Linked DNA regions of Homo sapiens: regions 2, 3, 4 and 5 are each reported to be linked to region 1. The links are microRNA targets in miRTarBase. Many come from high-throughput screens and were not tested one by one. Region 1 holds a microRNA gene; each other region holds the end of a gene's coding sequence.

The links. Region 1 holds the annotated microRNA hsa-miR-216a-3p (UCACAGUGGUCUCUGGGAUUAU, at 2,102-2,123, opposite strand). A microRNA usually pairs through its seed, bases 2 to 8, with sites in the 3' UTR of a target mRNA and lowers its output. Matches are read on the target gene's strand: a 7mer-m8 pairs with bases 2 to 8, a 7mer-A1 pairs with bases 2 to 7 and ends in A, and an 8mer does both.
Region 2: miRTarBase lists MKLN1 as a target of hsa-miR-216a-3p. The part of its 3' UTR that is shown has no 7-base or 8-base seed match.
Region 3: miRTarBase lists SLC46A3 as a target of hsa-miR-216a-3p. Seed matches in the 3' UTR shown: 7mer-A1 at 1,188-1,194.
Region 4: miRTarBase lists RNF152 as a target of hsa-miR-216a-3p. The part of its 3' UTR that is shown has no 7-base or 8-base seed match.
Region 5: the mRNA of EIF5A2 is a reported target of hsa-miR-216a-3p. Seed matches in the 3' UTR shown: 7mer-A1 at 1,041-1,047 and 7mer-A1 at 430-436.

Annotation. Positions count from the first base shown.
Region 1 is chr2:55,986,880-55,991,004 of GRCh38, forward strand. MIR216A (microRNA 216a) reads right to left here and starts at 2,180; the gene lies at 2,071-2,180. The region is part of intron 2 of MIR217HG (MIR217 host gene); the gene reads right to left. The region is part of intron 3 of LOC105374690 (a long non-coding RNA gene); the gene reads left to right.
Region 2 is chr7:131,487,210-131,491,334 of GRCh38, forward strand. It overlaps MKLN1 (muskelin 1), which reads left to right. Exons shown (of 18, transcript NM_013255.5): 18 at 398-4,125. The coding sequence ends at 519. Among named protein-coding and RNA genes, the nearest start is that of PODXL, 67 kb to the right of the region's middle.
Region 3 is chr13:28,697,982-28,702,106 of GRCh38, reverse strand. SLC46A3 (solute carrier family 46 member 3) reads left to right here. Exons shown (of 6, transcript NM_181785.4): 6 at 526-2,027. The coding sequence ends at 610. The region is part of intron 1 of LOC124903143 (a long non-coding RNA gene); the gene reads right to left. Among named protein-coding and RNA genes, the nearest start is that of SLC46A3, 19 kb to the left of the region's middle.
Region 4 is chr18:61,812,230-61,816,354 of GRCh38, forward strand. It overlaps RNF152 (ring finger protein 152), which reads right to left. Exons shown (of 2, transcript NM_173557.3): 2 at 1-4,125. The coding sequence ends at 3,623. Among named protein-coding and RNA genes, the nearest start is that of LINC01544, 66 kb to the left of the region's middle. RefSeq lists an enhancer at 3,998-4,125.
Region 5 is chr3:170,889,558-170,893,682 of GRCh38, forward strand. It overlaps EIF5A2 (eukaryotic translation initiation factor 5A2), which reads right to left. Exons shown (of 5, transcript NM_020390.6): 5 at 1-3,862. The coding sequence ends at 3,803. Among named protein-coding and RNA genes, the nearest start is that of EIF5A2, 17 kb to the right of the region's middle.

The DNA of each region.
Region 1 (4,125 bases):
TAATTTCCTTTTTGTTCTTTCATACTAGCTTTCCTCTTGGTTGGAATCTGCCTATCCTGTGGTCTTACATTCCTAAAGTTAAATGACAAGGAAGTTATTTGCAGTCCACAATAACTATTTTTCTTTAAAGTTTATACATGGTTAGATTCTAAGAAAAGTCTATTAAACTGTGTTACTGGTAAATAAGTCATGCCACTTCTTTAATTAAAACTCTCCAATTGCTTGTGGAGTCCCTCACACTAAAACCCCAAATTCTTACCATAGTCTACCTAGCTATACCCTCTAATCCTCTCCTTCCAGTTTTTCTCACTGCACTCCAACCACAGCTTCCCTGTTGAGCTCAAATACAGTGATTCTCACCTTTGGCTGCACATTACAATCCCCTGGGTGCCTCTTAAACAGAGATGCCCAGATCCCATCCCAGGCATTCTGATTTATCAGTGGCACAGCCCTTGATATTGACATTTTCAAAAGCTCCCTGTGCCTCTATGTGCAGAGAGCACTGGGAACATCTGGAGACTGCAAGAGTGCACTGAGTGTACACACAAGCAAGGCAACAAGCATGGTTCCTGATGCATCATATGTACTCAGCTCTTCAAAAAATATTTCCTGCTCTGTTTAATTACATTTATCTTCTTCCCTTTTTGAAAAATGGTCACCAAAAATTGGAATTGGGAATTTTTTCATGTTTGAAAAAATGATTATTTCAACTAGCAGGAGGATACAGACAACATTTAGAAAGTTTCAGCAGCAGCTTAAAAGAGCCCTTAATGAGTCCTGAAAATTAATACGAAGCCCTCTCCTTACCAGAGGTAAGTTATTTCCTGGCTTATGGTTCAGTATTTGTGCTATTAGTATGTGAATAACTAGTTCTCAAACTTACCTCCTACTGCTCAACATCAATTTCTGGCAAGGAAATCTAATAGGTCATACTAATGTGCCTTGATACAGAAATGTAATTTTTTTTTTTTTTTTTTTTGAGACAGAGTCTCGCTCTGTCGCCCAGGTTGGAGTGCAGTGGCGCAATCTTGGCTCACTGCAACCTCCGCCTCCTGAGTTCACTCCATTCTCCTGCCTTAGCCTCCTGAGTAGCTGGGACTACAGGTGCCCGCCACCATGCCCAGCTAATTTTTTGTATTTTTAGTAGAGACAGGGTTTCACCGTGTTAGCCACGATGGTCTCGATCCCCTGACCTCATGATCCGCCTGCCTCAGCCTCCCAAAGTGCTGGGATTACAGGCGTAAGCCACTGCGCCCGGCCCAGAAATGTAATTTAATCAAACTGAGATATACAGACTTCTCTTTCTGAGGATACCTGAGGGGATATGTGCCAGTCAAGACCTTGGAAATAGCATTTTAATAATTTTTGTTGTTAAAGTTATCCCACATTTAATTATAAATTTGGTTCATCTGATTTGTTTTGTGTTACTGGGTGAATGAGGAAGATAACTGGCCTTGATTTTTCACCCTGAAGAATTACATTTGTTCTTATTCTTTTTATGGAAAAGGATTATCTGTTTCCAGGGATCACCGAGAATTAGAGTTGGGTACAGCTCAAAAGTTTCATGGCAACCTCAGCCTAAGCCATAGTTGATTCTAAATTTCAATATTATTTAGGGCAGATGAATGTGAAACACTTACAGAAGGAATGAGGAAGGGCGATTAAATGTGATAATCTGGGGAGTTGAAGTTTGAGGAGGGCCTGGCAGGAGATCGTCCTCTTTTAGACTGTTTGGAATTTGATGGAGTAGCACCCACAAAGAGAGTGGGAGGAGCTTTCAGAGGGAAAATATTTTGGGTTCAGCTTCTAACACCCAAACTCCCTTGGCTGCAATTTTTTAAAAAACCAAGTAGCACTGAAGGAGCGCAGTAAGTAGCAAGCGAATCCAATAAAGGCAAATTAATTCCCAAGGCTGGTTTCCTTTCCAGCACAACAGCACTTTAGAAAAAGACTTTACTAAGATTAAAAGAGGTTGAGCATGAAACAGTAACCATCGAAACTTTTCCCCCCGTCTTGGTCATGAAATAGAAATTTGGTGTTTAATTTTGGTTGCCATGCAAGTCTTTTGATTCGTGAGGGCTAGGAAATTGCTCTGTTTAGCATAATCCCAGAGACCACTGTGAGGGATTGTATGAACATCTCACAGTTGCCAGCTGAGATTAAGCCAACTCACAGCCATCCGTGTTAGACCTGCAAGAGAAAGTGTATGAGCAGAGGCACGTGGCTGCCTCAGGTGGAAGCACATCTTCATACATCGAGTGCACCAGCAGAAGCCCTGATGTACCCCTCTGCATTTTTCTTGAGGCGACATTATCAAGCTACTCCTCTTGCTGAATTCACAGATTTCTGGCATATGCTATATTGCATGTAATGTCATAAAAGTATAATCTTTGCATTTAGAAAGGATTTACTCTAATCCATATATAGTAAGAAACAGCCAAGTAGGAGTACAGGTGAATGTAAAACCAATCACTAAAAATGATTTTTTAAACAAGCTTTATAGAGAACTTGGAAACATCAAAGCCAAACACTCTAAAATTTGTCCTCAGACAAGAAAACCAGCAATTACGTTGAAAAAGTAATGACCGTATACTCACCAAATGGCCAGATGTGTCAATAGCGGTGGCTATTACCTTTCATAGATGGTGGTATGTCCTCCCCTCTTGCCCACATCACTGTCATGGCTAAGTGAGACTGAGCCATGATCTAAGCCCCTCAGTCCACTGGGTGGGGCTAATCAATGGTAAGAATAATGATTAAGAACGGAAGGAAGAGGAAACGCCCTCAGAGTTTCCCCACCATCTGCCGTGGATGGCATCTCAACTTGAGTGAGTGTAAGAAGCACATAGGAAACTTGTTACAAATGTAGATCCCCAGGACCTACCTCTATATTTTGATTCAGTAGGTCTGGTTTTGGTGGCTGCGATTTGCACTTCGGTGGAGATTTTCCACTGCCTTTCTCCAGCTTCACTTCATACTAGACCATTTCTTCCTCTACATTGTAGACTCCAGCTCTAACAAGTTCTGAGAATCCAATGAGCTGTGTTTGCCCATACTTGGAATTATTTCTTCTTTCTCTCTCCCTCCTCTCTCTCTCTTTCACACACACACACACACACACACACACACACACCCCCTTGTGTGACAGTCACACATTGAAAACTATCACACACTGCCTTCTCTCCCCAGTCTCCCTTTTTTGGCACCTGTAATACACAATGGTGTTTTCTCACTCACATGCTTTCTCCTTCATTGACTGCAAACTTCCAAGTGTTGGCACTGTGCTTATTCATCTCTATATCCTCAACTATACTATTCTCAGTTTAGCATCTGATGTTTAATAAGTGCTCAAAAAAATTTTGTCAAACTAAATCAAATGTTTGTTGAAGCAAAGAATTATGGATTTCAGCTCATAACTTGTCCTTTAATAATTGAGACTTGACACAATTAAGAGAGTGGTAATTTACAGAGTTAGAAAAGTGGCTTTTCGTTTTAAAAGTCAGGTAAATATAAAGTTACAAAACAATTGAGAAAGAACAATTGAATATAATCTTGTGCCTCATATGGACTCCTAAGTACAAAGCTACTTTTGTAAAATAAGAATGTCTCATCATTAGGATTTAACTTTTTAAATATTGTTCTAAGTTTATTTTCTGGAGTCAAATTGCTCAGGATTAAAAATAAGCAGATTTTATCTTAATCAAAAAACAAGGGCTTCTCAGAGCAACATGAATGACGTTCAGTTTTTTCTTTTCTCTTAATCTTATATTTGATTTTCCTTTCTCTCTAGAAAGTTTAATAGTGAAAAGTTACCATAGAGAAGTGACAGGAGTATGTAGTTCTTCTTCCCTCTGCTAGAAAACATTAAGAAAAGATCATAAATGGGAACATCATATGCTGATGTGGAAGATGAGACAGCTTTTTATTAATCTTAAGTTGTCATGTCCACAACTGCACAGGGAGGTGGGCTCTCAATGGAAGCAAAGACATATACGTTTCTGCCTTGCCTACCTTAGTGGGTTGCTGTGATGGGCATTTAAAAAAGAAAAAGGAAGAAACTGATACAAAGTTGTTTTGGCAACAAAGCTATATTAATGTGGATAGATAGTCCACAGGCCAGATAAA
Region 2 (4,125 bases), not on the chromosome of region 1:
GAAAAGACAAGTGGAATTTCCTCAGTGGACCAGCAGAGAAAAGACCTAATAAGGAAAAAAAGAGAGATCAGTATTATTTGTAACTAAAGTGCCAGTCCTTCTGCTAGACGCTTTTCATGTAACTACATTTAATCTGCACAATAACTGTATGAAGTAAACAGGATTATCACATACTTACAGCTGAGGAAGCAAAGTCTGAAAGCCAGAAAGTCTGACTAATTTATCTAAGATCACACCACAGCCAGGTAGTAGAACTGGGGTCAGATCAGTAGTGTCTGCCTGGTTTTGAAGCCTGATTTGATTTCTCCATTATAAAATACATTGCTGCTGGTCTCAACTAGTTTTTCTGTTACATGTTTTAAACACAATGGATGTTTCTTTGTATCTTCTTCACCAGGCTTTTCTGATGTGGATCACACCTATGCTCAAAGAACTCAGCTCTTTGACACCTTAGTAAATTTCTTTCCTGACAGCATGACTCCTCCTAAAGGCAACCTGGTAGACCTCATCACACTGTAACTGAAGAGTCACTGGACACAGAAATGGAAAACAGGAGTCGATTTTCCGTCTTTTGGATTGCAGCTCCACTGACTGACAGTAAAGCTGCAGTGATTGAGGACTGCACCAGAGTTCTGAAGGGATCTTAACCATCACAAGTTTTTACCCTCTTCCTTCATGCCTGACCTCAACCCCGCTCTCCTCATCCTATTCCTAAATTAGGCTAATAAAGTGAAATTGGTATACTTTCCAGTTAAATATATATATATATATATTTTTTCTTACTTTATCTTTTAAGAATTAATGAGTATAAAAGAAAAATTAGGCAGTTTACCCTTTTCAGATTTTTATTTCTTTTTTTTTTAATTGGGGGAAATAAGCACTATTAACAGATTCAGCACTACAAGTATTTTGAATGTTGTTGCTGTTGGTCATTTGGCCTGCCTTTTCCCTTCCTATTTCACTTTGCCTCCCATCACACAACTGCGTGTAAATGGTGTCACTTGTTCACCTCTTTACTTCATTCTTAACAAGTGTATAGTTCTCTAGGACAGTTGATGTATGTTAAGGTGATATCTGTGTCTGTATTGACTTGTCTTGTGTTACATTAAACAGTAGGCAGAACTGAGGTCTCAAGTTTGCACTCTTGGCCATAGAACTAAAAATGAAACCTGAGATTGACCCAAGCACCTATCTGAGATTGGTATATAATATTTCTATAATGATATATTTTATAGTAGATATTACAATAGCATCTGACTTTGAGTCACAGAAACCTTAAACTGAGGAGACAATAGTTCAGAACCTTTTTAAGAGCCATTCTAAAAGTGACCAGCAGGAGGGATCTAGTAGTGAATAATATCTTAATAGCAATTTTAGGAGAAAATGACTCTTTCGTCCAGAAGAGCTCTGCAGAACCAGGGCTCCCGTTTATCTTGTGCTATCTCTGTAGTATTTTCATTTGAGAGAGGAGGCTGAGTTTCCAGAGCTTTGCTTTCATTTATTTTTATACACATTGTCTCTCTATATCTGCTTGTGGATATTGTTATTTTGAAGAGAAATGGTTTGTGGTTGTCCAGTGGTATACAACTGACAGGCATTTCATTAAGCACATAGACCAGACTTTGTGAATGGTTCAGATATTTTTTCATTAAAAAACAAGGTATGGCAGATGGACTTTTCCATGGGTCAAATTTTTTGTGTGAGAGATAGAGGTACATGTCTTCTGATGATGTGCTGTGGAATGCAATGTGGGAAACCTACATCTGGCTAGTGCTTACATTTGCTCAAAAAGCATGTTGTATGAAGCTGACTGCCACCATGCTAAAGCAGATTCATATTAAGAAGTGTCGGTCGATCCAGTGGCTCTTAAGAGTGAATAGCTTTATGGAATCAAGTATGTCCCTGAGTAGCAAGATTAGGCCTCACCAAAGAAGAAATTAACCTGCACTTTCAAAAAGTACCATGTATAGGAATGAAACATTGAGGTCCCACTTTATTCTGTCTTTAGTACATGGTTTTACTTATTTTGGGGATGGATAGAAATATATTTTTGCTAGTTCTAGGCTTGAATCATGGGCTCCTTGGCTTTCCTAGCATCCCAAAGCAGTCAACAGTGATTTCTTAAGCAATTTGATCTGTACCTTTACTTGTGAAAGGTATGCTATATAATTCAGCAAGTACCAACTTGTGTAGCTGCAGAATAACCAAGTGGCTATCCAGTCAAGTAAATACAGTTTGCTTACATACTTCAACAGTTTCATAAAACGATTCCCCTGAGTGACACAAGAACATAAAATGTTAATATCACTAATATAGCCTGTTAAATCTTTTGTGGAGACAGGTGCAAATCAGAAGATTGACAAGGAAGAACTTGAGCTTGCTAAATAAGACTTCCTAAATTTAAAAGCTCTAGTTTTGCTTAGTGTGAATTCTGGCACTTTAAAAAGATTAAGCAAGTGAAATTCTGCTGCCCTCCACCATTTATTTTTACAGTGCTTTGTAATTTTTTTCATCAGTTCCTTAAATGTTATTTGGAGGAAACTAAGTTCTTGACCTCAGTAATTTTATTTTTGTTTTTCCCTAAATGTTTCCCTACTAGTCTTTTTGGAAAACATGTTTGTTTTAATTTCATCTTCCCTCACTTTATTTAGGTAGAATTTTTCCCCCTTCATTTCTGAAATTTTTTGCTCACCGCCATGTTTAAATGGGGTTGAATCATAGCGAGCCATTTGCTCTTGCCAAAGTGAGATAGATGTACTGAGGAGATAATTGAAAAGTCAGACTCTGTACTGTGGGGCTTTAATCGGAGCACTGCTGGAAATGATTGCAGAGAATGTAGTGCTTCATATATCCATGACCAAGATTGACATGTTGCTCACAACATGTCACAATTTAGTGAGGAGCTACATGTATTTCCAAGAATTCCAGCATAGATTATAATTTAAATAATCGAATTTGGTATTTAGGTACATTGTTTATATAGCCAAGTGTATATGCTTTACTACCTAACAATTATTCTAGCCTAGGTGAATCCCTAATTGAAACACCTGGCTAACACTTTAGACACATAAATTAAGTGGGATACAGTTTTCTCATTTGTATTATCTCCAGCTTCAACCTCATTTATCCTTTTTCCTAGTATAATACATTGTTTTCAACCAGAAATTAAAGTAGATATCCAACATTATTTTCAGTGCTTGTACTTCATGAGAAATAATCTGATTTTCAAGACACCTCTTAAGTGCATTTGCATTTTATTTTGGTAATGGCAGAGACCTCATGTGGCCAGTTTGATTGATTGAAGAATGTATCACTCTTATTCAAGCAAAGGAATTCAGACTTAAATGCCTACCTCTGTGCTGAAGCTGACAGACAGTATTAACTCTTATCAAGGCCATCTTTTAGACCTGATTTTCATTTATATGAAAACAGACCTGTCCATGTCTAATAAGTAAAAACTGATAGAATACATTAAAAAGTCACTGGTTTATCATAGAAAAGTTTGATGGGTTTAGAGCTCAGTGATTTAAGCTTGTAAAACTGCATTCTTGGGCAAAATATTTATATTGTATATAAATGGTTGGCAGCTTATTCCAGTTGATCTCTTCACATCTGCCTTAAAAGTGCTATGTAGAGATACATTAACAGAGTTATAATAAAACAGTGTTTTAAAATCTAGCCTATAAACAAAAACTAGTTTGAGGCACCCAAGCATTTAGTGAGAGATTGAGAATGATGCTTAATGGATCAAAAAAGCAATTAGGAGTATGTTCCTGATTTTATTCTCTAAATTATACTCAATTTCATGGTAATTACATGAAGAAGTTACCTGCAATTATTCTTAACACTACATGGAATTCACTGGGTAATTGTGGGTCATTTATTTCCTGAAAGTCACGTGAAATCCTTAGCTGGTTGAATGTTGCACAGTATTTGAGAATTACGGTTTGAAGTGATTTCTGTGGGAGGGAATCATTGCAATGTATATTCTAAATAAAGTCATCTAACTATTAAAAAAAAAACACCCTTCCTAACCCTTCTTTTCTTAAAATTCCACATTCATCCACAATCTCATCCCTTTGTAGAAATTCTTGCCTGAATTCTCACCAAGTTTTGAATTCCTAA
Region 3 (4,125 bases), not on the chromosome of region 1:
ATACATGGTGAGTAGAATAATAGGTAATTCTAATTTTAGTCTTCACATGTTTATAAATTCTGTTATAACAGATAGATAAAAGGCAGTTGTCCTTTTAATAATAAGGTAAAGTAGATGGGCTTCTGAGCTTTTTTTTTAACCTTACACTGCTCAATATTTTAAAAATCAAAATTACATACTGTCTTACCTCCAAATGTCCAAGCTTCTGAGCTTCAGCTATAGCTATTGAACAGGAACTTCAGTAATAGCTTTAGTTATAACTAGTTTATGTGGACTACACAGAGTTAACCATGGGACAGATGGGATACCTTAGGGGTCTAGAAGAGAAAAAAAATCATGCAGTTTTAAAATTATTTTAAGAACACCATGCATGAGTCAGCTGGATTCAAAATGCCAGGATACTCCTCCTAATAATCTGCATAATTTATTAAAAGCTATGTAACTGGGAAAAAAAGTTGGAAAACAGATTACTTATTTATGTATTGTCTTAATCTCAACTTTAAAATGTCTTGTTTCCTTTTATAGTGTTGTCAAGTGTACCAGCTGGAATGAGGGAAGCTATGAACTTCTTATACAAGAAGAATCCAGTGAAGATGCTTCAGACAGGTGACTGTGATTTAAACAAACAAAAAAAATCTATGAATGCACATATCATATACCATGACTTCTGAAGACTATAAATGAATTCCACAATCAGTGCTTCACTGAGAACCAATTTTACCTATCTTTTCTTCTAAACTGAACAGTCAGAGAGACAGCTCCTGGCTTTAGCTTCTTGTGGTACCACGCACTTTGAGCACTTTGTGCGTATCATGCAATATACTTGCAATACACAGAACAAATTTCAAATACGCCTCACTTTTAGACTTAGAAGAGAAACATTAAAACTTAAGGGTGTAAGGAGGGATCAAGAAACTTGATAAGGTCAAAAGCAATAATCTCTCTGACATATTCCAGGCTCTTACACTGAGACCAAAGAGAAATCTTTACCTCAGTTTCTTCATCAGCAGAATGGGTTTCTGGCCTCTCTCAGGGATAATTTTGAAGGCATAATGAAAATTATGATGAATCACTCATTGGTAGGAAAATAATGATATAAGTTTCAAATATGTATGATTTTACCTATACTTGGTAATGCTTTATTTTATAGAGCCTGTTAAGCTGCTATTGATAGTCGGAGCTTATATACTGTGACTTCTGAAGACTATACATGAATTCCACAATCAGTGCTTTGTTGATACAAAATCCTTAAAAGGGAGGCACTTTAAAGAATATGTATTTTTCACTTTTCTTAATATGTTTCATCGGTGACAGGCATGATAATATTTCTATATGTAATGGGTAATTGGGAAAAAATAGATGATAAATAAAATTGCTCTAAAGAAGTTAAAAAACTGAATGAACAGCTAATACTGGTATAAAGTAACTAATGTTTGGAGCCAACATTTGTTCCTTGTGTCAGCAAAAGGATATTCACATTCCATGATCCCTGGCTGAGAATTCTGCCTCTAGTCTTTCTTACCCAGCTGTTGTCTATCCTTGTTCAATTATAAATACTGCTAAGGGCATTTTTAAAATACGATCTTGTACTCCTTAAATTTGAATCCGTCAACACGGTCACTCATAGGAAAATGATCAAACAAGCAAGCCAGTCATGATTTGACTCCTTCCCATCTCATTTCTTACTGCCTTACGCTCATCCTGAGGTCCACCTTGGTCTCTAAAAACACCATGTGTTCTCATGCCTCCATGTCTTTTCACACACTGTTCCATTTGCTCTTCCTCCCACATTACATTGAAACTTTCAAGCCTCAGTCGAAACATTGCTTCTTCTGGATAGCAGCCTTCTTGACATCCCTCCTCACTCCCCAGTCCCTACAGGGCTTCCATAGCTCTTTGTGTGCACTTCGATCCCAGCATTTTCCATCGACTTGTAATTGTTTCTGCTACCTGACAATCATCGCCTTGAGTACTGGGACAACCTTTGATTACTCATTATATCCTCAATAAATATTTGTTGAACTAAACTAAATGACTACAAAATTTTATTTTTACTTGTAAAAATCATTTAGAGCTATATATTTAATGCCTTATGAGAGTAACCACTGTTATCATGCCAATCATTAAGCCAGCCTTGCAAACAAATTGAAAAATATGCCAGTTTATACACTTTTAAAACTGATTTACAGTATTTTCATAGGTCCTTTAATACCTCCCATTTTCGAAGTTACCATAAATAATAACACAAATGCCCTAACGTGCAACTAAATGAGTAACTTCATTGTAATCTCTTGAAAGTAGATACAATCTTCTGTTTTATAGTATTGCTTAGGGCTTTAAGAAAATCAATGATTGCTTGACTAGTGAATAGCACTCATAATTTAATATACTAGAAATCCTTATTTCCAAGATCATTCCTTTTAGGTTTAGCTAGTATCTTCTGGGCTTGGAGCCCGTGTAATAACTAATTCTCAGATTGACTGATACATTTTTGTTTTCCTTCCTGTCCAAGGTTCTTCCCAAACCAAAACAAAAAGCATCTTACAGTTTATAAAGTAGATATTCATTCTCCTCATTTTACAGAAGAGGAAGATAAGTCTCACAGAGATTTGGCTGGACCGTGGTTATTCAGTGCCTATCAGTATGACACATGAATGGACTTCACCCTACTGAATGAAGTCCAGCTACTTCATAGCTAGGGTTTGCAGTAATAGATTATAAACCCCAAAGCAAGAATTGTACAGGGGTAGCATGATGTACTCATCAAAAACAAATTAACAAAAAACTGTACCCAACTAACTGCCTATAATTATTATCTTTTTTGAGCTTAGACAAGATGGTCTATAAACTCTCTTCCAGCTCAACATTCCATGATTTTACACATCTCATCTGAACTGAAGAGGTACTGTGTAATACAGTTGAAGGGTTAACAGATGATTACTTGAGCAAAAACTCTATTTGAGATGTAGCAAGTATATCAGGAGATTAGATTGAGGTGGCCAAGGGCAAAAATGTAGCACAAATGAACTTAGCCATCTCCAAAGTGTCTAGCCTAAGAGACAATTAGTAAATGTGGTGCTGAAGAGACTAGAGAACCATGCAAGCTGATGGGATGGGGAACTATAGACTCAAAACAGAAATGAAAAAAAAAAAAATCTAATTTCCCATCATGTAACCCGATTATCTGAAGAAAGAATGTTAATGGAAGGACTGGTCTTTATGGAGCCCAGATAAAGAGAAACCAGAGAGGAAAAAACATGTTCCATGTTATCCAGCAGTGTACAAAGGGGGTTAGATTACCATATCTACTAGAAATGAAGATTCTCATCATTACAGAGGACTAGTCAATGGGATTGTCCACAGCCTGCATTGCACGGCCTCATACATCTAAATCCCTTTTCTCCACTTCCATACTCACTAGATAATTGTGTCCAGAGTTGGTTCCTTCTGGTGGGTTGGTGGTCTCACTGCCTTCAAGAATGAGGCCACGGACCTTCACTGTGTTACAGCTCTTAAAGATGGCATGGACCCAAGGAGTGAGCAGCAGCAAGATTTATTGTGAAGAGCGAAAGAATAAAGCTCCCACAGCGTGGAGAGTGACCTGAGGGGGTTGTGGCTGCTGGCTTGGGGGTGGCCAGCTTTTATTCCCTTATTTGTCCCTGCCCATGTCCTGCTGATTGGTCCATTTTACAGAGTGCTGATTGGTCCATTTTACAAACCTCTAGCTAGCTGCAGAGCACAGATGGTGCGTTTTCACAGAGCACCGATTGGTGCATTTTACAATACTCTTGTAAGACCGAAAAGTTCTCCAAGTCCCCACCCGACCCAGAAAGTCCAGCTGGCTTCACCTCTCATAATCTTCTAATTACTCATTCAATGCCCAAGAATCTTGACAATAGAATAGCATGGCCTGGGTTCAGTATTCTTTTAAAGAAATCCCTGCATATGAGAACCATCTGAAGAATTTAAAAATAAAAATAAAATAATTAATTAGTAAAAATAAAAATCCTTGGCCTCATGTACTAGAGATTCTGCTTCAGTAGCTCTGCAGTGAGGTCTTGGAATGTATTTCTAAAACCTCCCCAGGTGACTGATACACATCCAGACCTGGAAACTACTGCCCTA
Region 4 (4,125 bases), not on the chromosome of region 1:
TCCCTTGTAGTAACCCCATTTTAACTGCCTAAAAGTCAATGTGCCTGGTGGCTACCGTACCAGACGGCACAGGTTTTCGAGCATTTCCATCATCACAGAAAGCCCTATTGAACAGTGCCAATCTAGAAGATCTCACAGGTTATACCATCACATGGTTTAACCTTCAAGGGACCCAATCTGTAAGCCATGCAAAAAATTAAACTTAATTCTATTTTTAAAGAAAACATCTTAGAGCTTTCTGATCATTAAGTATGACTGGAACCAAAAACCAAGTTGCCTTTTCATCACAACTTATGCCCCAAGTCATTATACAAAATTTTTCCAAAGACAATGCTTCTTAGTAGCATTCTTGGCTCTACTTAACATATTAAGCATTCTCTTCCTTATTTCAAGATCATTAATAAAGATGAAAATTCATGCTTCTTATAGTTTACTATTTATACAACACTCACTGTCCTTTACATACAAGTGGGGTGGGAGGTTTGGACACCAATGTTTTACAATTTTAAAAATTCAAACCACATGGTTTGATAGTTGTCTTTCAACATCTATACTCATCCCTAAGTCAACCCTCCTTTCATTTTCCCAGAGAGGTAGATGCTAACTAAAATGAGTACATAAACCTACAAAAAAAATTCTTTAAAGCAATAGTTGACTCAGTAAAGGGTATTCATCAACCCTAGAAAGGATCATAGCCAGATAGAGATATAGACAGACCTAGGATGGAGCAAGAAGACACTGCAGTGCGAAGTTCATATCCCCCCCTTTCTGCAGAATTACAAAACGGACTCATCTACAAAATGAAGCCACCGGAGGCTGCTTTCAGCTCTTTCTGTGCTTTCCAGTTGTGACTTTTCATTAATGTGCAAGTATGAATCCTGGCCTCTTGTGTCAGTGGACTTTGGTCACATGGGTAGATGTGTTTGTTAAGGGTCATTGGTAAATGCCAGAAGAGGCCAGAGCAATGGGATGCCAAGCAACATTAAAACATCATTAAGCCTATAAAATTCTATCTGGGAGACTGAGATTCTCTCTCTCTCTCTCTCTCTCACACACACACACACACACACACACACACACACACACATACACAAGAATGCACACCCCAACAAACAGGTACACAAATAACTGCAAGCAGATCCATTTAAACAATTTAAACAATGTTTCTTAGGTCAGTAAGACTCACAAAAAAAATCTGATTTTGGTTGTTGTTGTTAAATTTAAGGTCAAGAATCTACCATACAGCCGATTAATTTTGCACTGCTTAATGGCAACTCTAGCATGGGATTGTTTTTAAGTAAAAGTTCTATGGACATTTTTACTCTACAGATTTGCACTAAGAAACACAGGACACTATCATCACACACATTAGTGTCTATATCTAACCTACTTTAACAAGTAGAACTCTATCACGTACTATACTACAGGGTCAGTCATTTCACACTGTACAGAAACATATGCAGATATCACTCACAAAATTAATCTGAATATGGCATAGCTTAAAATTGCAAGGGCAAAGTCTATTCGAAATGTAGCATTCTTAATGCAACACTTCTGTGGTGTGTGTGTGTGTGTATTTTCCTCCAAGAGAAATAGAAATTAGGTCAGACATGCATTATGGCAGCCTGGGAGAGTTTGAGAAATTGACACTAACCCAACAGTATATTATGTTATGTAATAGAGGATAGTATTCAGCTAATATGACACCTAAATTATTAATACCAAATAAATCCTAGATTATTTGTTGTATAATGCCCAAGAGCTTACACAATAAAATGGCATTTTAACCTAATTTCTATTTTGAGCTTTCAAATACATTTCCTAAAGGTTTTATGATCAATTTGAAAAATCAGAGCTCACAATTTTATGTTGAATTCTCATGCCAATTAGCAGTATTAGCTTTGTATTCTAGCCATTATATTTTTGTTTTATTTCACATTAATTCCATCACTTTTATATGCATATTTTGTGCTGCTTGAAGATAACAGACAGCATGTAAATAAATTAAATTGTCTTGACCTCACAGGGCTATTTTCTAGCCTTGCTTTTTGGAATTAGCCCTGCTTGTCTTTCCTTCACTTCCCCCCACCCTCCTCACCATTTTCAGGGATTCAGTGGAACATAAAAACAGTTATATTTATAAGTGGAGTCCTTGTCACATACCACTTGCTTCATGAATTCCATAAAAGAAGTTAGATGAGAGCTGTAAAGCTCACAGCTATTTCTGAATGCACATGCACCCAGGGATAGGAATTTATCACGTACTTGTAGCAGATCTTTCTTCATGAGCATCTATAGATCATTACACATTTAAGAACATTTGACAGTTTATGAGGAACTGGTCCACTTATATTGGGAATTTGAGCTGTTAGTTTACCTTGCCACCTTTCTTGGTAAAAACGTGTTAAAATACAGGAGATCTTCTCTCATATCAACAAGAGGAAACAGGAATTCTAACTGGCTTAACTCTTGTGGAAGAGCATCTTTCAAAAAAGAATCACAGGCCATTTATTAAAATGCCCGCCTGGGTTGACCATCAGTCACAACACTCATGGCCAGTGCAAGACTCCAAAACCAGGAGAAAAGACACTCTTCTGTTACTCTCCATTTGCCTCTTACAAAATGCAGGACTTAAATACACAGAAGAGGAGCGAGTGTTGCAGGTGACGTGTAGGAGACCACTCGCTGGGTCAAGATGTCCAAGAAGTGGCCACCGCTTCAGAGACTTGACTCATTCATGCCCAATGAAGTCTTCATCCCAGGATTCTTCAGCAAAGACTCAAACACCTGAGGTAAATCAAATTAGACACACACACATACACACACAAATACACAATATTTACATTTGAAATTCTTATTTTGTGAGATGGCTTGAGGAAAATCGGCATACAGGTTTTCCCATGGGATTAGACATTTCTCATGATTTCTCGGTTTATTGCTCCCCTGTTGAGCTTTCAGTTCCATAAACACGTAGCAAGCTCTAATTACAAGTGAAGAAAATGAAGGTTCATGACAAAACACAACACATTGGAGACACTTGTTCAAATATTTCCTCCAAATAAAATGACTGTCCATTTTGACTTATTTTGTTTTGGTGCCATTCAAAATGTATTAAAAGCCTTAGCAACTAAATGAAGACTGGGTTTCAATAAAAAGAAAAAAAAAATAAAGAAGCCAGCAGTGCATGTCTTCACTGAATTTTTACACGGATTCGCAGGTTTAATTCTACTTGTCTACAGAGCATCTTTGTTTGAATCTACCGCATTTAGAGAAGGTCACATTGTACGCACTTGTACAGTTTAACGTCTAAGTAGAATATGTCTATCTTGTAACATGATTTTGAAAAATCATAAATTACAGTCCATTGAATACATGATTATGAGGATGCATGCAATCATCTTCCAAGCTGTTGCCATCAACACTCAGAACAATTCACCTGGTATCTTGTTGAGACCGCACCTTCTGCCCTTTGTGTCTGTCTTGGGGTAATCAAGAGGCAACCCAGAGGCCAGCGCTCAGCACCAAATGGTCAGTGTTGCCCCCCATCTTCTCACTGGGATCTCATCATCAACCTGCTCAACCCCTAAGTTGGCACCCACAAGAGACTTCCCTGCAGCCCTCTTCAGCCACAGGATATCACAGTGAAGCGCTTAGAAATGCAAGACATGTTGTGAAGCACGATGCCGAGGAGGAAGACCAAGACGCAAGCCACCAAGATGACAGTGCACACCCCCGACCAGGTGGAGCTTTTCACCACGCCCCGCCTGTCCTGCTCCTCCTCCACCGCCTCCTGGGGAGCCCCACCTTGCAGAGGCTGCTGTTCAGCAGGGATGGTCACCACGGTGACGGACTTCTGCTGGCTCCCGGGCAGCAGGCGGCAGCCCATGTCTCCGGGCAGCAGCGCACGCTCCTTGGAGATGGGCAGGGGCAGCATGTAGCACCCATTGCTGGGAAGTTTGATGAAGACCGGGGTGTGTTCGGAAGTGTGTGGAATGGCGATGACAGCCAGGACCTCCGGGTCGTCCGGGAGCTGCGACACGGAGAAGCCGGGAGGCAGCTTGGTGACACCGCGGCACCAGGGGCACCGCACATCCTTCTGGCTGGTCCTCATCTGCTGCAGGCACA
Region 5 (4,125 bases), not on the chromosome of region 1:
TAAAATGAGAGCTGCTGATCAGTACAATATACTGTTAATGGAAATATGCTTATATTTTCACTCTTACACTGCTTAAGAGCCATATTTTCTCATAGTAAATGCGTTCCTAGTTCATATTACAGAATTCAGTATGTAAACATTTCAGTGTACCCAAAAAAGCATTATGAATTTATCTATTATCCCTAAATATGTTTGGTGAACCTCTACATCAATGCCTGGCTCCAAAACTATCTCTGGGGTCCATGCCAAAGGAATGCTTTCAGATGTATCCTAAGGATAGGATTCTAAGATGAGACTGCCAAAATCTATTCTAAAATGAAAAAAATATGGCAAGATTCCAGTATGGATGCTACTGTTTCCATTTTTTTCTTGACTATTTAGCATGTAGTTTAAGTGTGTTGACATTAAGGATTTTTTTATATGCATGTATCACAGTTATTACAATTTGGGAAAATTCTGCCAATATATTTTCAGGCAATTAGCTTTAAAATAATGAAATTTCAGCTTTTAGCACAAATAGCCCTGAGAACAATGCATTCAAATTACAGCTCAACTAGAAATATTCTAATTGAGAAACCTTAAAGTACAAAAACAAGTTGTGGAAAGTTGTAAATTTAAAAAAAAAAAGTTACCAACAGTTGAGGCACCAACAGACTACAATACTTTTAAGAGTTGGGAGTTTGGAAAAAAGAACTAACATATAAAGTTATGTGCGCACATGTGCACATGCAAATTGCATTGTAATGAAAAATTGTGTCTCCAAATTTTACAGCCTAATCATTTTATTGCAGTATCTCCTATTATAGATATCATGCTCTGATGCAGGAGAGTTTTGGTAATTAACATAAAGCGCTGGTACAGAGACTTGTATCATTAAGGGAAACAGAGTCAAGAGCTTGGTTAGCAACAGTTTCTTCAAGTGACTGAGCCCCTGGAAGGGAGCATGAAAAAAACATCATAATTATGTTTATGATGCAAATGCTAAGTCAAAGTAGCAATGATATGATCTATGTTGTAGCAAATAAGGTATAACAAAGTCTTCACAGTATAAATAAAATGTTCTAAAAAGAAACAAATATTCAACCTGTTAATAAATTGGTGAAATGTATACAGATAAAAATGGCTTATCACTGTACAATGATATCAACATGACAGTCCACATTCTATACATGGTAACTCGTGATTTTTAACATTTGCTACAAAAAAGTACAACAAATATTGGGAATCAACTTTAACATTTCTGATGTCTAAAAAGAATGAAGTCACTTCTGTTCTATGTTAAAAAATACATGTTCCCCGCTTCCTTTTAATATAATTTATAAAGCTTTACTAAATATTTTGTTCTAGAGAAACATCTATTGACTTATGTGAAAATAAAGTCCCATATCTTTAAAATCTATACTTATATATCGAGTATTTACACTTCATATATTACTTAAAATGAAAATATTTATGCATAAATAGCGTTTGCCATTCAAAGTATGAAGATAGAGATGCATTATTATAATTTGTACACCCTTAATTTGTACACAATTGAAAATATATTTATGTGAAATTTTACAAGTTAGGAAGAACAGGGGCATGCTAATTGAGAGTTAATACTGAATCATAACACCAGCATGGTTAAGAGGGGCCATATGAATGAACTGCAAGCAGCACGGATTAATAATTTTCTGGAATTCCTATGAGTTACAATGCCAACCAGTAGCAATTAAGATACACATTACAGAGTACTAAGAAACTAGAGCAGTATGTAGTAGGTACTTAAATAGAATACTGGAAAGAATGTAGCCTAATTTTAATTGTGCTTTAGATGGGCAAAAGCTAAAATGTTGTAGGAAAGACGACTAACTACTACCTCACTATTTCTTGTGCTTTAGAAATTTCCTTTGTATTTCTCTTAAAGTATCTTGCTTCTTCCCCAAATTGGTTTGCCGAGGCTAAGACAATATTTAAAAGTGTGTACAAATTAAGCAACTAAAACTTGGGATCTTCTGTTACTAATGCTATTTCCAGTCACTGATTAGATCAGTTACATCATCATATATGATATACTTTCCTTTAGAAGATAGGAACAAAGGGCTTTTTAGAGGTCAAGGCATGATGGGAGAGGTCTAAGAGCCAGTCTTAGAGAATTAAGGTATTTCTGAGATAGTGATTTTGTTCTATGTTTTGCTCCAATATGATGATTGTCACTGAGTCAAAGGTCCTCACAAACCCTGTAATAATGTCTAAAATTCTGGAAATAATATACATATGACTCAAAAGATGAAATAGAAATGCAGTGGTGTCACCTAAAATACCTTTTAAAATAATTCAGTTTATAGAATTATTTGCTAGTTATAGTTCACACCAGCAACTGAATTAAGTCACACAACAATCAGAAAAAATGCATATACTTAAAATAACTTAACTTAAATAATAATATTCATATAAAGTAATGCTGCTTCCATGATTCACTTTAATTCACTTTAGGAAAAAAAGGACATAAAATTAACAAAAATTCCAAATCAATTTAAGGAATTCTCAGTTTTTGTTTAATAAATACATTAATGTCAAAAAATCTACTTAGAAATGGTTGGAAAGGGGCTGGGTGTGGTGGCTCATGCCTGTAATCCCAGCACTTTGGGAGGCTGAGGCAGGTGGATCACCTGAGGTCAGGAGTTCAAGACCAGCCTAGACAACATGGTGAAACCCCATCTCTACTAAAATACACAAAAAAGTAGCTGGGCGTGGTGGCATGCACCTGTAGTCCCAGCTACTTGGGAGGCTGAGGCAGGAGAATTGCTTGAACTCGGGAGGCAGAGGTTGCAGTGAGCCGAGATTGCACCACTGCACTCCAGCCTGGCTGATGGAGTGAGACTCAGTCTCAAAAAAAAAAAAAAAAAAAAGGAAGTTGGAAAGGAGTATTTACTGATAAATATTACTATTTATTCAACATAGTTGGAAAACAAGCATTGCATAGTATCATGTAAAGCAGATCACTCCCTTTAAACGTTGGGGGCAAAGTTAAAAGCAAAAACAACTGAGAAACAACTTTTCATTTTTATGCTGACTTACAAAGTCCTCACATAAAAACTTATAGATTTAATCAACCCTCTTTGCCACTGTCTTTTGTGTCTTCCTTATAATCTTACTTGCTAACTAACTTTCACCCAACAGTTCAGTGCCCTTCTGCCAACCATAAGAAGGGACTAAAACCACCATATAAGGTTACATCAAGTTTGCCAACAATTTGGTAAATAGTATGACCAAAGTAATCACATGGTTGCATGTGGCCACCAAAATAACTGACAGTTTTTGATAACATGATTTTTGTTTAAGGATTTGTGTTTGCCCTACACAGGCTGAAAGTGCAACAATTCCAATATATAATCAGTTCATTTTATATTAAATCTGTAATTAATGCAGAGCAGTTCAACTTAAATATGGTACTTCAATACCACTTTATGCTACATTGTTTGATTTAAAACCCTGGTTTATCATCTAACTAAAACACAGGAATGATTTGCTCAGACAAATCACATCTGCTGAAGCTATCTTGTTTGTTTCTTGGACTGACATACTGAAAACCACAGGAATATTATAGGAAACATATCTACAAAATTCAAAAAAAATTATACATATTGATAATTTTTTAAAAATTATCAATTGCTTGCAAAACTAACCCAGCACAATCTGAAAACAATTAAAAAAAGAAATGAGGTTGCTTATGAAGGCTATAGCTTTGGTGACAACTTAGAACCAAATTAGATCTGCAGTTGATTCAGACATAAACAGTGTTCATGCCTGATGTTTCCGTTTATTTGCAGGGTTTTATGGCTACAGCATATTCTTCACTCATTGCACACATGACAGACACCTAGAAGGAAAAAAGCAGGCAAAACGTTATTCAGAAGACAATACATATAGAAGATATAATTAGTTCCTCATATATTGTATATTTGTGGATATTTTGTACATATGGACTTCTGAAAGGGGTATTCCAAAACAAGCTACTTTCTTTACAGTTTTCTAAAGCAGAATTTCTCAGAGTGGTTTGTAAGACAACTTCCAGGGAACAGGAAAAATAACTATAAATGTTTGAACACTTACTACCCGTTACATTTCTGAAAGTTGTAACGA